Regions from separate parts of the Homo sapiens genome. Here all the other regions are reported to be linked to region 1. Evidence: microRNA targets listed by miRTarBase, many of them from high-throughput screens and not tested one by one. Region 1 holds a microRNA gene; each other region holds the end of a gene's coding sequence.
What was found. The annotated mature microRNA hsa-miR-6722-5p reads AGGCGCACCCGACCACAUGC and lies in region 1 at 1,240-1,259, shown strand. An mRNA with a match to its seed (bases 2 to 7 or 8) in the 3' UTR can be bound and repressed. Matches are read on the target gene's strand: a 7mer-m8 pairs with bases 2 to 8, a 7mer-A1 pairs with bases 2 to 7 and ends in A, and an 8mer does both.

Region 1 (4,497 bases):
GGAGGGCTGGAGAATTGGAGGCTGGAGACTGGAGGTTGCAGGGCTGGAGGGTGTAGGGTTGGAGAACTGGAGGCTGGAGGGCTGGAGGCTGTAGGGCTGGAGAACTGGAGGCTGGAGGCTGCTGGGCTGGAGGCTGGAGGGCTGTAGAACTGGAGGCTGGAGGGCTGGAGGCTGGAGGGCTGCAGAACTGGAGGCTGGAGGGCTGGAGAGCTGGAGACTAGAGGCTGCAGGGCTGCAGGCTGGAGGTTGGAAGGCTGGAGGGCTGGAGCCTAGAGGCTGTAGGGCTGGAAGGCTGGAGGCTGGAGGGTTGGAGGTCTGGGGGGTTGGAAGCTGGAGGCTGGAGGGCTGGAGAACTGAAGGCTAGAGGCTGCAAGGCTGGAAGGTTGGAGGCTGGAGGGCGGGAGGGTTGGAGACTGGAGGCTGGAGGGCTGGATGGTTGGAGGGTGGAGGCTGGAGGCTGCAGGGCTGGAAGGCTGGAGGCTGGAGGGTTGGAGGCTGGAGGCTGGAGGGCTGGATGGTTGGAGGGTGGAGGCTGAGGCTGGAGGTTTGGAGGCTGGAGGCTGAGGCTGGAGGGTTGGAGGCTGGAGGCTGGAGGCTGGAGGGCTGGCGGCCCTAACGGGAGCCGCCTCAATGCAGCTTCTTGGGCCCTGGTACGTGCTTGCGGTGGCCTCCCGGGAAAAGGGCTTTGCCATGGAGAAGGACATGAAGAACGTCGTGGGGGTGGTGGTGACCCTCACTCCAGAAAACAACCTGCGGACGCTGTCCTCTCAGCACGGGTGAGTGGGCGGGTCCTGCCAGGCCTTCCCGCAGGCAGGACTGTGGCTCAGCCACATCATGTACTTTGCACATCTGCTCCCGGGCACCGCGGCCTGGGGGCTTCCCACGGCCCCTCTGCACCCCCGTCACTTTTCCCACTGGGCTCTGTGCAGAGCCACCAGCCCTCTGCCCAGCTACTCACATCTGTGTCCCTGGGGCCTCCAGGTGGCACTCCCACCTTCAATACCGCGGCGGGCACTGCTCTGACTATGCTCCTTCATGCATCCCTGTCCTGGGTCATCTGGGCTGCAGGCTGTGGTCAGAGCTGGGGAAGCCTGTCCTCTCAGCAGGCCTTTTTCGGGAATTCTGTTTAAAGGAGGATAATGCATTCGGACCTAAGAACCACTGGTTCTTTCATAACATAAATCCCCAAACAATATGGTCATGGACGCTGTTGGCCAGACTGGCCTTGTGGCCTCAGGCAGGCGCACCCGACCACATGCATGGCTGGTGGCGGCGTGCAGGGGTCGGGTGGGCCAGGCTGTGGGGCGGCCGTGCTACACAGGGGACACCTACAGGGCAGCCGGGCTGTGGGGGTAGCCGTGCTGGGGCAGGAGTCGGTGCCCGCCTCCCTTCACAGAAGAGTGGCCTGCTGGGTGGCGTGGTGGGTGTCTACCCCCTGGCAGGCTGGCGACAGAGCCCAGGCCTGAACCACTGAGCCAGGTACGGGGCCCAGAGAGAAGAACCTGCCCTCCTCACCAGCGTGCCTTCCCCCTGCACCTGCGCCTGCAGGGTATGGGCAGGGGCCCCACTGCACCCCCCGGGCCAGGCCTGGCCTCAGGGCGAGCTGGGACCAAGGGGCTCCAGGCTGAGGTGGCAGCTCCCACGTGGCTTTCCTAGTTCTTCTTGCTGTTCCTCCCGCATGGACTCAGCCTCAGTTTCCTTCCTTGGCAAACACCATTGCACCTTTGCTGGGTTTTGCTCACTCTGGGGACTGACCACTTAGGGAGCGCCGGCCCCTTCCCCCGAGTCGCAGGCAAACCCCCACCCCGCCCCATCCTTCCCCTGAGTCGCAGGCGAACCCCCACCCCACCCCATCCTTCCCCTGAGTCACGGGCGAACCCCCACCCCGCCCCATCCTTCCCCTGAGTTGCGGGCGAACCCCCACCCCGCCCCATCCTTCCCCTGAGTCACGGGCGAACCCCCACCCCACCCCATCTTTCCCCCGAGTCGCGGGCGAACCTCCCGTCTGTCGAGTCTCCTGTTGTGTCCTCAGCAGCATTCAGCGTTCCTGGTGGAGATCTGGCACTGAGGATCTCTCAGGAAGTGAATGGGAGTGTCCGCCCCTCTCAGGACTCCCACGCCGTCCACTCTCCGAGAACAGGTTTCCGGGCATCGGGGCATCTGGCAGAAGATGGAAGCTCTGGCCTCACTGCTGGCTGGCCTGGCCTGGACTCCTGAGCTCCGTCTCCTCTCACCGGGCCCCGGGGTCTTGACCCTGAGTGGGTGACAGGCCCCTTCTTTTCCAGGCTGGGAGGGTGTGACCAGAGTGTCATGGACCTGATAAAGCGAAACTCCGGATGGGTGTTTGAGAATCCCTGTGAGTCTGACGGCCACGGCCTCACCCAGGCCGTTCTTCCCTGCAGCATCCCCAGGCCCCCTGCGGGCAGGGACGGAGGGCTGACTCCGCTCCCGAGAGCCAGGAGGCTACAGGTTCTGGTCTTGGGATTGCTGCCCATCCTGAGGGTGAAGAGAAGCCCCTGGACAGAGGATTGGAACCTTGTTCCCAGCAGGCTCAGACACCAGTGAGGTCCAGCCAAGGTCCCCATAGGTGCAGAGGGCGAGGGGCCTGTTTAGTGGCTGTCTACAGGTACAGGGCTGGGCTGGTGTGACCCAGCCGCTCCTCGTTCACACCTGGGACAGGCTGGGGCAGTGCTTGTCTGTCTGTCCGTCAGTGTCTGAAAGCCCCTTGATGCTGGCACCAGGTGGGGTCGGGGGTGGGGGACAAAGCTTGGGGGCTCTGGGTGTGCTTGGAGGGGTCTCCTGGGGAGGGGGGCTCTCACTTGAATTGGCCCCTCTGTCCCTGTGGCCAGCATCAGCTCAGCGGCCCCTGGATGGATACAGCAGCTGCCCTCCCCTGAGGCGGGGGGTTTTGTTTCCTAGCAATAGGCGTGCTGGAGCTCTGGGTGCTGGCCACCAACTTCAGAGACTATGCCATCATCTTCACTCAGCTGGAGTTCGGGGACGAGCCCTTCAACACCGTGGAGCTGTACAGTAAGTGTGCTGTGCGGGGCCCACGTAGGGAGCTGTGTGGTGCGTGGGCCACTCGGGGCCCACGTTGGGAGCTGTGTGGTGCGTGGGCCGCTTGGGGGCCGCGTGGGGAGCTGTGTGGTGAGTGGGCCGCTCGGGGGCCATGTGGGGAGCTGTGTGGTGAGTGGGCCGCTTGGGGCCACATGGGGAGCTGTGTGGTGAGTGGGCCGCTCGGGGGCCATGTGGGGAGCTGTGTGGTGGGTGGGCCGCACAGGACCACATGCAGGCCAAGTTCCCCCACCTTGAGGCTCGCTGCACTGGAGGTGGCTTTGGAAGGACCGGGGCCAGCATCCCAGGGCAGGTGGCCTCCTTCCTGACCCTTCCCAGCCCCTCCCCGGCCCCTCCCCAGCTCTCAGAGGTTGCTTCCCCCTGCACTGCCCTGGTGCCCCCAGGTCTGACGGAGACAGCCAGCCAGGAGGCCATGGGGCTCTTCACCAAGTGGAGCAGGAGCCTGGGCTTCCTGTCACAGTAGCAGGCCCAGCTGCAGAAGGACCGTGAGTGTCCACCGGAGCAGCCTCGGGGGAGGCTTGGGGCAAGTTCTGGAGCCCACAGGGCGTGATGGGGTGACAGAGACCCTGGGGTTGATTCTGGCTTCTGCCTGACTCAGTCGCCCTGAAGGAGTCAGGCAGGCTGAGGGGGTCTTCACCTGCCCCTGCCCAAAGTCAGGCCTGGGGGTCTTGTCCCCACGGCAGGCGAGTCTTGTGGGTGGGGCCCTGGGGTGCTGGGGGGCTCAGTCCTTTTTCACAGCCAGTCTTGCCTCCCCTTCTAGTCACCTGTGCTCACAAGATCCTTCTGGTAAGCCGCCATCCTGAGCCTCACCCTGGGCTCTCTTGGGGGAAGGGGGTGGGGGAGGCCACCCTACGCACAGTGGGTGGGAGGACCCTCTGCCCAAGCCCACGGGGTTCATGGCTCCACTGTCTCTAAGGCAGCTGAGGGTGTGGAGGAGCCTCCATGGTGGGCTGGGCCCCCTCACACTCCTCTTGGTTTTCAGTGAGTGCTGCGTCCCCAGTAGGGATGGCGCCCACAGGGTCCTGTGACCTCGGCCAGTGTCCACCCACCTCGCTCAGCGGCTCCCGGGGCCCAGCACCAGCTCAGAATAAAGCGATTCCACAGCAAACCAAGGATGCTTTTGACTGGGGGCCAGCCGGGGAATTGCGGGGAGGATGGCGGGGGTCGTCACCAAGGGCCAAGCCACAGAACCATAGAGCCAGCTGCAAAGAAGACGCGTGCCCAACCCAGTCCCTTGCCAGAGCCCCTCTGGGTCTTCAGACACCCAAACTCAGGCCCGGGCTCAGAGGCGGGGGCTGGTCAGAGGACACAGCCTGGGAGGAAGCCAGCAGTGAGCTCCACCAGGACCGCAGCTGGGGTGCCAGAGGCTCCAAGGACTGCCCAGGACAAGAGAGAGGTGGCTGGTGGGGCTCAGAGCAGCCC
Region 2 (5,622 bases), not on the chromosome of region 1:
ATGTGGAGATGAAATGAGGAGAGGTTGCTGGTAAGAAGTGGAGAGCCCCGAGGCAGGGAAAGGAGGAACAGATGGGGGCATTGAGGGAAAAGAGCATCAGACTGTTCTAGCTCCTTAACTTTCCAGTAAATTAACTTCCTGTCACCAAACCTCTGTTGCAGGCACAGCAGAGCCTGCGGGCTGCAGGACTGGTCAGTGACCTGGATGCAGACTCTGGACTGACCCTCAGCCGGAGAATCCGCCGGGCCCAGCTTGCCCACTACAATTTTCAGTTTGGTAAGCTGAACCTCAGAGCCAATGTTCTCCCACCTGCCGTCTGCATTCTTGCTGTTAAGTTTACCAAGTCTGGTAATGCATATTTGGGTTAATTGGGGCTCATTACCTGAGCAGGTAGGAGCCAGGATTCAGGACACCTGACTCATTTGGGCCCTGTGTTCCTTCACATTGCCCTGCCCTCCCCATAACCACTTCTGACACTCAAAATAGTTTTCCTCTTTTTAACTCCACTCTAGCTGTTGGTGTCTGTTAGGTTAATTAACCAAGGGAGCATCAGAGAGAAAGGGACGGGAGGGTTAATACAGCGTTAATTACCCTTGTTTATTTTAGACCTAGATGGAATCAGCCCTAAGGGATGAGGAGAAAGGCCTTAGGGAGAAAATTCTGGCACTGCCATGCTCCCTTTTTCATTTTCCAGGGTTCAGGGCTCTATCTCAAAGGTGAGGAGCAGAAACTCCTCAGCCAGATTACCTGATTCTTGAGTTTTGCACACCCCACTCTCCCTACAAGCACCCAGAGCAAGCTGTGCTGCAATCCCAGGGACTTGTACATGGCCCCTTTCCCTCCCTTACCGCCCAGTCAGCCCCTGCATACATCCTCCTCAGCAGAGGCCCCTCACTCTGTGAATCCAGCCCTAACAGACACCAAGAGCCAGAGTGGGACTGATGAGAGGAAACTGTTCTAAGGGTCAGAGTGGTTGGGGGGAGGCGGGGCAGTGTGAAGGCCACACCACTCCTGCCACCTTCCACTTGCTCTAATACCCCCTTCAGACACGCGCGCGCACACACACACACACACACACACACACACAGTTTCTCTCTGTGGGGTTCTCATTGTTTGTCTTTCTCTGCTTGACTCTAATGTCTCTGACACACACACACACACACACACACACACACACAGTTTCTCTCTGTGGGGTTCTCAGTGTTTGTCTTTCTCTGCTTGACTCTTATGTCTCTGACCCTGGGGCTCTTGACCAGAAGCGATAAGGCCTGCGGGGACTGAAGCACTTCCTTGTCTCCTCAGGATGAGCAGGACTGGTCATTTAGTATTAGCAGACACAGCTGAATACTTCCTTTCTGTGAACCATATCTGGGCTCTGCTCCCACCCTTCCTAAAGATTTAGGTCTCTCAAGTTTCTGCAGAGCAAAAGAAACTGTTCCATGTGGGTGAATTTGCCCTGAGGTTCCCAAACTTCCTCTACCTGCAGTGGTTGGCCAGAAAGAGCAAAGTAAGAGAACAGTGAACATTCGGACTCGAGATAATCGTCGCCTTGGGGAGTGGGACTTGCCTGAGGCTGTGCAGCGACTGGTGGAGCTACAGAACACGAGGGTCCCAAATGCCGAAGAAATTTTCTGAGCCTTTGTACATAGATGAGGCAAAAACCTGCGAGTGCCATCAGCCTCCCTCACATGGGAGACCCCAACCCAGCTGACAATGTGGAGCCCCCAGAACTTCAGAACTGTGTGGAGGCACATGTCTGCTCTCCTGAAAAGAGACTTGGTTTGGGGACCCCACAAAAGGAGGGAAGCTGTAGCTGTTTGGATGTGAGGAGAATGAAACTACAAAAAAAAATAAATTGGGCCAGGCGCAGTGGCTCATGCCTGTAATCCCAGCACTCTGGGAGGCTGAGGCGGACGGATCATGAGGTCAGGAGATCAAGACCACCCTGGCTAACACGGTGAAACCCTGTCTCTACTAAAAATACAAAAAATTAGCCGGGCATGGTGGCACACGCCTGTAATCCCAGCTACTCAGGAGGCTGAGGCAGGAGAATCGCTTGAACCCGGGAGGTAGAGGTTGCAGTGAGCTGAGATTGCGCCACTGCACCCCCCTAGGCGACAGAGCGAGACTCTGTCTCTAAATAAATAAATAAATAAATAAATACAAACTGGAAGCTGCTGGTCATATGTCTTCATCTCTGACTCTGGAGAGGTGGGATAAAAGGATGTTCCACTTTGTCTCCCTCTTTTTTGTCCCAGAGAGTTAGGGAAATTGAAAAGGGACAGTCCAGACCTCACACTGGTAGGGGAGATCCCTTGGATAGGTTTCCTGCTCCCCGCTGTAAACTCCTTTGTGCCCTGTTTCCCCAACCCCAGTTCATGAGTTGGCAGATCCCCTCTCCACAGAAGGCAGCCTGTAGATGGAGAAACTGAGGCACAAACTAGGGGCTCAAACACCTCTTGCTCCTGGATTCTCTGAATCAGTTTCTCTTGAAGGTCATAAGAATGTTCTCCTCTAATCAGTCCCATTCTTCTCAATCCTCTGAGGAGGCTTCAGGGTGACTTTGGGAGGAGTGGCTTCCAGAGGAGGAGCAGCTGGGACTGAGTCATGGCAGGAAGCTGAGGAGGGCGGGAGATCACACCAGACAATTATAAAAGAAGAGCTGGTCCTGAAGCTCACAACCGTAACAGCCACCAGACAAGCTTCAGTGGCCGGCCCTTCACATCCAGACTTGCCTGAGAGGACCCACCTCTGAGTGTCCAGTGGTCAGTTGCCCCAGGATGGGGACCACAGCCAGAGCAGCCTTGGTCTTGACCTATTTGGCTGTTGCTTCTGCTGCCTCTGAGGGAGGTGAGTTGGGGGATCAGCACTTAGGAGGGGGTCTGGGCTTGCATGGCAGGGGTCTGGGTCCAGGCATCCCAGACGGCTCATCACTAGCAGAGTGATTCTCCGTTTGGCTTTCCTTTTCTGAGCAGGCCCAAAGTGGGCCTAGGCCAGTGGAGCCTTTAACCAAGGAGGCAGAGAGCAGGGGCACAGAAGGAGAGGGGTTCCTAGAAACTGCTGCCAAGAAACACAGAATCCCAGTCAAATAGACAACTGAGTGGGGGGTGGGTTCACAGAGTGAGGGTCTCCTGCTGATGAGGATGTAGGGAGGTGGCTGGTGGGAGAGGCAAGGGAGGGAAAAGGGGCCCCCAGGCTGCTCAAAACCGGATTGCTGGCCCAGCAAGCCTCGACTGACTCCCTGTCTGATTAGAGGAGTTGAGGGGTGTCCATCCACAGACCCACCCTCCATCCAGCACAAACACATTCTTTATCTGCTTTGATGCCTGAACAAAACAGGAACCCCTCAATGCTATGGGTGGAAACTAAGAAAAAAAGGAAAAGAAAAGGAAAAAAACCACCCAGGGCACTCCTGCAGGAAGCTGCTGAGGATGTCAGCAAATCTGTCCACTTCTCTGTGAAGCCCCATGCCATCATTCTTCCCAGCTCCTGGTCTTTTGTGTCTGCAGATCACCTACAAGTGACCCTTCCCTGTGCCTGTCCCAGTCCCCCAGGCCCTAAATTGAGACCTAAACTAAGGCGGAGCTGAGACTGGCTGAAGGGGAAGCACTCAACCTTCAGGAAGCCTCCTTAACCAAAGGCCTAAAGATGTTTCAAGGGCCTGGAGTAGGAGGGTGGGTGGAGGAGGTGGATTGGGTAGGCTCCAACCAGCTCAAGGTCCAGACTTTTTCCTCTGAAAGCTAGAGACGCATCCCAGCAGAGACTGGGGAGGACAACCCACAGCCCTGAGGGAAAGACTGGCAGAGGAAATGAGGGCCTCCCTCCCCAATCCCGTATGCCATACTCCCTTTAGGCCCAACCTCTGAGCCAGTAGAGGTGGAGCTATCAGACCGCCACAGGCTTTCTCAGAACCCAGCTGGTCATGTCTAGGTGTGTTGGGGCTGGGAGAGGATTAGGGGACACGGGGCAGGTGAATACAGAGGGGCATCTCGTGTCTTGCTTGTCTGTCCTACACTCTTGATCTCCACAGCCTCCCCATCCCTTGCTGAAGTCCAGGGAAGGCCCTCCCAGTGGCCCCTGACTTGCCCTTCTTCCCTCCAGGCTTCACGGCTACAGGACAGAGGCAGCTGAGGCCAGAGCACTTTCAAGAAGGTAAGAGTTTGGGGGAGCAGCATGGGATTGGGACTCCAGGAGGCACTGTGGGCTCTGATGTCTCCCCTCTTGCTTCTAGTTGGCTACGCAGCTCCCCCCTCCCCACCCCTATCCCGAAGCCTCCCCATGGATCACCCTGACTCCTCTCAGCATGGCCCTCCCTTTGAGGGACAGAGTCAAGGTAAGGTCACCATCCCATGCCCTCCTCAGTGACCCTCCAGGTTTCTAATCTGGCCTATATCCCACTTTTCAGGTGGAAAGGAGGGAAGAGGCCCTCGCCCCCACTCCCAGCCCTGGCTAGGAGAAAGGGTGGGCTGCTCACACATTCCCCCTTCTATAGTGCAGCCCCCTCCCTCTCAGGAGGCCACCCCTCTCCAACAGGAAAAGCTGCTACCTGCCCAACTCCCTGCTGAAAAGGAAGGTGAGCGCTTGCCCACCCTCCCTCACCTCTATCCCACTATGGATCCTGTTGACACCAGGCTGATCCCTGCTCCTTGGTGCCCTCACCCCTATCTTGCAGTGGGTCCCCCTCTCCCTCAGGAAGCTGTCCCCCTCCAAAAAGAGCTGCCCTCTCTCCAGCACCCCAATGAACAGAAGGAAGGTAAGCAGCTCCCTCTCTTCTTTACCCACCTTTACCTCATGGCCTTCCCCCAGAGCATGGGCTTCGGGGCAGACAAGACGGTGGGCTCTGCCACTCACCAGTTGTATAACCTTGGGTAAGTTACATACTTCTCCAAGCCTTTGTTTCTTCATCTGTAAAATTGAGGATATACCTGTTTTAGAAAGTTATGTGATTAGATGTGCAAAAATAGCATCTATTTTCACTTGCTTCTCTGCTGAGTTCTTCTTTGTGCATGTAAACTAGCCAGGCTTTCTCTGCTAGAGATGGCCATCCCAACATGGCTTTTGCTTACTCCTTCTACCCAGTAGACCCACCTCTTCCATATCAGGAGGAGATAATCATCCATTCCATGCCGAGAGAGGGTGAGTGACAGCTTTGGTCTGTCCATCCTCCTGCCTTAGTGCTCAGGACCCTGGGGAGAGGAGCAGGAAGCCCGAGCCTTGAGAAGCAGGAGGAGGTGGGGGCAGGCTGTGAGCTGACACCTTTCACACCTCGCTTCTCTTTTCCTTTCAGTTATTTTAAAAGGAAGAGCCACAAATTGTTCTTTCTCATTTCCACTATATCCTCCCAACCCTTTCTCCTCCACCCCAGATTCTTTCAATCCTCCCAGCTCATCCAGCCTTTGTGGGTTCCTTCACATGTCCCCGCTTCCCACTGTTTTCCCCATTCCAGGAACGCCAGCTCCATTTGGGGACCAGAGCCATCCAGAACCTGAGTCCTGGAATGCAGCCCAGCACTGCCAACAGGACCGGTCCCAAGGGGGCTGGGGCCACCGGCTGGATGGCTTCCCCCCTGGGCGGCCTTCTCCAGACAATCTGAACCAAATCTGCCTTCCTAACCGTCAGCAT
Region 3 (5,622 bases), not on the chromosome of region 1:
AGGCCAAGGTGGGTAGATCACTTGAGGTCAGGAGTTTGAGACCATCCTGGCCAACATGGTGAAACCCCATCTCTACTAAAAATACAAAAACTAGCCAGGTATGGTGGCACATGCCTGTAATCCCAGCTACTTGGGAGGCTGAGGCAGGAGAATCGCTTGAACCCAGGAGGTGGAGGTTGCAGTGAGCTGAGATCGCACCACTGCCCTCCAGTCTGGGCGACAGAGTGAGACTCCATCTCAAAAAGAAAAAAAGTTGGAAGGAAACAGGACACCTGCATAAATAAGTTTGGAGATAGAGCCTTATGGTTGGAAACAGGACGCCTGAATAAATAAGTTTGGAGATAGAGCCGATCCTGGGTGATAAAATCCAAGTGGGATAGTTAGCTGAGGTGGAATGAAGGTCACTGTAGAAAAGTTCAGAGTGTTGGATGGTCACTGACATGGATACAGGATAACAGAAGGGGCTGAAGTGAAGCACAAGACAGGGAACCAGGGCCTAATACCCTTAAAGAATGAGAGCGAGTTAGGAGTGGTTGAATAGGGTAAGGTTTAGTTACAAGGGATGGAAAACACCAAAATTAATAGTGCTTAAACAAGATAGGCTGGCGCTTTGGTTTATGCCTATAATCCCAGCACTGTGGGAGATGGAGGCAGGCAGATCACTTCAGGTCAGGAGTTCAAGAACAGCCTGGCCAACATGGCGAAACCCCGTCTCTACTAAAAATACAAAAATTAGCTGGGCATGGTGGCACGTGCCTGTAATCCCAGCTACTCAGAAGGCTGGGGTGGGAGGATCGCTTAAACCCAGGAGGCAGAGGTTGCAGCAAGCGGAGATCACACCACTGTACTCCAGTATTCCAGCCCGGGAGACAGAGCGAGAGACTCTGTCTCAATGAAAAACAAAAGCAAAAACCAAGACACAAGTTCATTTCCTACACTCAAGACATTCAGTGTTATCTTGTCCTCATGGCACTCCTCAGTGTTGGAAGAACCAGTCTCCTTTGATCTTTTTTTCTTTTTTGAGACAGGATCTGGCTCTGTTGCCCAGGCTGGAGTGCAGTGGTATGATCACAGTTCACTGCAGCCTCAACCACCTGGGCTCAAGTGATCCTCCCACCTTAGCCTCCCAAGTAGATAAGAGGAAGAGCCTTCCTCTTATCTTGTTGCTCTGCATGGTACCAATTCCCAAAGCTACTTCAGTATGGCTACTGAACTTCCAGCTGTCGTGTCTGCATTCCAAACAATAGGAAGCAAGAATGGATAAAGGGGAAAATGTACCCTTCTTGTAAGAACACTTGCAAATTGTATACATCATTTTCTCTACCATTGGCCACAATTTAATCATAACTGGGAGGGAAGCTGGGAGATGTCATCTTTATTTTCAGCAGCCACAACCCCAGCTAAAATACTGGAACATTCTATTTCTTTTTTTTTTTTTTGAGACACAGTCTCACTCTGTCGCCCAGGCTGGAGTGCAGTGGCGCAACGTCCGCTCACTGCAAGCTCCGCCTCCCGGGTTCACGCCATTCTCCTGCCTCAGCCTCCCGAGTAGCTGGGACTACAGGCGCCCGCCACCTCGCCTGGCTAATTTTTTTTGTACTTTTAGTAGAGACGGGGTTTCACTGTGTTAGCCAAGATGGTCTCGATCTCCTGACCTCATGATCTGCCCACCTCGGCCTCCCAAAGTGCTGGGATTACAGGTGTGAGCCACCACGCCCGGCCCTGGAACATTCTATTTCTTTCTTTCTTTTTCTTTTTTTTTTTTTTTTTGGGACAGACTCTGTTGCCCAGGCTGAAGTGCAGTGGCGTGATCTCGGCTCACTGCAACCTCCGCCTCCTGGGTTCAAGCGATTCTTCTGCCTCAGCCTCCCGAGAAGCTGGGATTATTGGCACACACCACCACACCCAGCTAATTTTTGTATTTTTAGTAGAGACGGGGTTCACCATGTTGGCCAGGCTGGTCTCAAACTCAGGTGATCTACCAGCCTTGGCCTCCCAAAGTGTTGGAATTACAGGCATGAGCCACCGCACCTGGCAGGAACATTGTATTTCTAGAGAGGAATCAACTATTGAAGAATTGGCACCTTCTCCCAAAGGAAGCGCTGGGGAAGTCAGTAGAACACAAAGAACTGGATGAAAGGGATGTAGTAGAATGGCATGAGCCTGCAACGGGCAGGGTTTTCTTTGAACTGGGTGAACAGTCTGGCAGTGGTACGAGGACCCCGACTCCCCAGCCTGGGGAAGATGAGATATGTGAGGTTGAGGTTTGAGAAGAAAAGCCACCACTTGGAGGGGCTGCAGAAGTGGCTCTCAGAGGATAGCTGGTTTTCCATGAAGGCAAGGAGGGAGCAGAGAGCTAGCCTGGAAGGTTCACCAGAGGGCCCTTGGGAGTGGGTGAGTGGGAATGGAGCTGGGTGGGGGTCAGCAAGGACAGGGTTATTTGGTTACTGGATGAAAACACGGATGAAAAGCCAGTGGACTTGGTCTTGATAGTGTCTGAGGAGGGTGGGTCTTACTTGGCCACTGCGACCCAAACCAGAAACTGCTCCCCCTTCAAAATCCACGAGTTTACTTATCACAGCCAACCAGGTTACCTCCCATGCCATCCTTTGACTTTTGCATCAAGCACTTAATAAACTTAATATCTAACCCTTGGTACCAGCCCCCAAATTGTATGTTCGATACTATAAATTTGAAAGACATACATATATCCTTTCCAAGGGTCAGGAAAGAACATTCAAATGTCAAAAATGATCCGGAGGAGTCCCATACTGCTCAGGGTAGGTCGCTTTGCAAAGCAATGAGAAAAATCTCTGAAATAGTTGTTTTCCCCATAGCCATCATTTAACATTGTTTCATTATTATCAGTTTTTTCTCAGGGTGGCTACTCTACCAGGAGCACACAGAAGTGCTCAGCGCCCCCACCCAGCTCTCCTAGCCCTCAGGGATCTGGGATTATAGTCTCCATTCTCAGGCAAACTCCTTTTATCAAGATGTTGAACATTCTAGGGAGCCAACTGACTTGAGGTGTACAACAGAACAGTCATGAGGAAGGGACCTCTATCCACAGTCCTGTGAGCAAAGGAAGCAACAGACAGCTGCCAGCACAAAGTCTCAACACACTGCCTCCAGGAAGTAAGACTGCAGGATGGCGGGAAGCAGATGTAGTATGGGTGCGCCCAGCCCCCCTCACCATCTGTGGACCCCAGGCAATGCAGTCAACCTTCATTCATCCTTTATTGAAAAGGCGGGGAGGGGCTATCAAGTCCTTTGCTGAATTTTAGTGAGAATTAATTCAGATACATACCAAATGCCTCACACATGCGTGGCTTGAGCTAAGTGTTATACACAGCTATTATTTTTAATTCTATTACACATAAACTCCCTGAGGCCGGTGACAGTGCTTTGCAATAATAACTAATCAACAACAGTCAATGCAGTAAGTGAAGAGTAGAATTCCAGCATACTAAAGGGTTAGGATCTAGGGATGAGAGCCCCAACCACCTCTATCAGAAACAGAGCTGCTGGGCCAGCTGTAGTGGCTCCCACCTGTAATCCCAGCACTTTGGGAGGCCGAGGCAGGCGAATCACTTGAGGTTAGGAGTTTGAGACCAGCCTGGGAGACATGGTGAAACCCTATCTCTACTAAAAATACAAAAATTAGCTGGGTGTGGTGGTGTGTGCCTGTACTCCCAGCTACTCGGGAGGCTGAGGCAGGAAAATTGCTTGAACCCAGGAGGCAGAGGTTGCAGTGGGCCGAGATCACGCCATTGTACTCCAGCCTGGGTGACAGAGTGAGACTGCCTCAAAAAAAAAAAAAAAAAGAGAGCTGCTAATTTAGAAGCAAATAACAGGAATGCTGGGTTCTGAGGCCAGCCCTAAGACAGCCAGAAACGCTGAGAAACTTCCACAAGCAACAATTCCTTACATTCAGTGCAGTGTAGCACTTCAAGAGAAATCCAGAAAGTTTCAGTTCCAGATGAGAACAATGAGGTGGTGAGGGGCTGATCTGCATACTATTGCTGAATTTGTCTGCACCCGCTAACCCCAATGATGAGAAAAGGGAGCGCAAAACATCCCTCAGAGCCAAGGAGGCAATTGCACACCGGTGATCACTGGGTGTTGTGAAGTGGGCAACAGAAGCCCCTGTTCGGACCTCAGGAGTCCTAACTTTTCCTTGTCGCTCTTTTCTCTGAACCACATGCTGTTTCCTGGGCTGAGAAAGGGCATGCCATGTTAGAGCAGAACTGAAAATAGACACAGCCACAGAAGGAACATCAGCAGGCAGATTATCGAGTCCGCTGAGATTTTGGCATTTTGGTCCTTGTCTGTCCAAGATATTTTTGGAAATAATATGGGGTGCTCCTGAAGGTCATGGGGGAGGGGGCAGGACCCACTTAGGTGAAAAGCCATGGGGCCCAGGTGAGCCCCTGTGGCCAGTCAGCAGCTCCCTTCCAGGGTCCAGTTTCGGGCATTGATAAAGAGCTGGAGCCAGGGGGAGGTGGTCAGAGTATCAAATGGAGGGGGTCGCCATGCCCACTGCCAAGGCCTAACGGCCCGCTCAGGGTGAGGCATGACAGCCAGGTGGCGGCCATCACAGGAGCAGATGCCAGCCACGCCCCCTGGGGACCCATTGGGATTCAGAGGGTACTGCTCTGTGGGGTTCCCGTCATCATCAGCCCAGTGCAGTGGAGCCAAGCCCCTGGCCTCAATCTGAGCTTGGAGTTCCGGAGAAGAAAATGCTACGTAACCTGGGATGGAAGGAGGAGGGAAGTGAGAGCCAAGGTCCTTCATGCCCACCCTTGCCCCCAACCCTCGGGCCCTCCCCCAGCCTTCCTTGGGCCTGACCTTCCCCGTGCGCACTCCACACGGGCAGCACGGCGCCCTCCATCCCTCGCAGCATCAGGGCTGGCCCAGGCCCCACACGCACGCTGGCCCAGCGAGACTCGTAGCGCCCAGACAGGTTGTGGCGTAGCAGAAGGCCTGGCCGGGCTGGCTGGGAGTCAGGGCCCATCTCTGCAGCATCCTCATTGGGGTCGCCTCCCACCCAGCCGAGCAGAGCCAGCAGTTGACAGCCATTACACACGCCCAGGCTGAAGGTGTCTGGCCGCTTCCGGAAGCGCCTCAGCTCAGCCCCAGCCCTGGGATGAAAGGTCACAGCAGCTGCCCACCCTAGCAGGGAATAGGGAAGTCAGGGTGAGACATGGAGGACCTCAAAAAAGGGAATTGGGAATGAAGGGGCATAACTGCTCTGTTTCTTTTCTTTTTTCTTTCTTCCTTTTCCCTCCCTCCCTCCTTCCTTCCTTTCCTTCTTTCTTTTTTTTTTTTTTTTGAGATGGAATCTCATTCTGTCACCCAGGCTGGAGTACAGTGGCATGATCTCGGCTCACTACAACCTCTGCCTCCTGGGTTCAAGCGATTCTCCTGCCTCAGCCTCCCAAGTAGCTGGGATTACAGGCGCCCGCCAGCACGCCTGGCTAATTTTTGTATTTTTGCATGCCTGTAATCCCAGCTACTTGGGAGGATGAGGCAGGAAAATCGCTTGAACCCAGGAGGTGGAGGTTGCGGTGAGCCAAGATTGCGCCATTGCACTCCAGCCTGGGCAACAAGGGTGAAACTCCG

Region 2: miRTarBase lists TARS2 as a target of hsa-miR-6722-5p. Seed matches in the 3' UTR shown: 7mer-A1 at 2,094-2,100.
Region 3: miRTarBase lists PFAS as a target of hsa-miR-6722-5p. The part of its 3' UTR that is shown has no 7-base or 8-base seed match.

The regions. Positions count from the first base shown.
Region 1 is chr9:136,743,703-136,748,199 of GRCh38, reverse strand. MIR6722 (microRNA 6722) reads left to right here and starts at 1,230; the gene lies at 1,230-1,307. LCN6 (lipocalin 6) reads left to right here. Exons shown (of 7, transcript NM_198946.3): 2 at 637-776; 3 at 2,286-2,356; 4 at 2,920-3,030; 5 at 3,459-3,560; 6 at 3,836-3,861; 7 at 4,058-4,183. The coding sequence ends at 3,538. It overlaps LOC100128593 (a long non-coding RNA gene), which reads right to left and starts at 2,039. Exons shown (of 3, transcript NR_033913.1): 1 at 1,999-2,039; 2 at 1-1,122.
Region 2 is chr1:150,505,430-150,511,051 of GRCh38, forward strand. It overlaps TARS2 (threonyl-tRNA synthetase 2, mitochondrial), which reads left to right. Exons shown (of 18, transcript NM_025150.5): 17 at 162-276; 18 at 1,487-2,173. The coding sequence ends at 1,635. ECM1 (extracellular matrix protein 1) reads left to right here and starts at 2,680. Exons shown (of 10, transcript NM_004425.4): 1 at 2,680-2,850; 2 at 4,102-4,152; 3 at 4,232-4,333; 4 at 4,493-4,573; 5 at 4,673-4,753; 6 at 5,447-5,622. The coding sequence starts at 2,781. RefSeq lists an enhancer at 5,065-5,622.
Region 3 is chr17:8,268,083-8,273,704 of GRCh38, reverse strand. It overlaps PFAS (phosphoribosylformylglycinamidine synthase), which reads right to left. Exons shown (of 28, transcript NM_012393.3): 27 at 4,849-5,172; 28 at 3,219-4,751. The coding sequence ends at 4,441. Among named protein-coding and RNA genes, the nearest start is that of RANGRF, 18 kb to the left of the region's middle.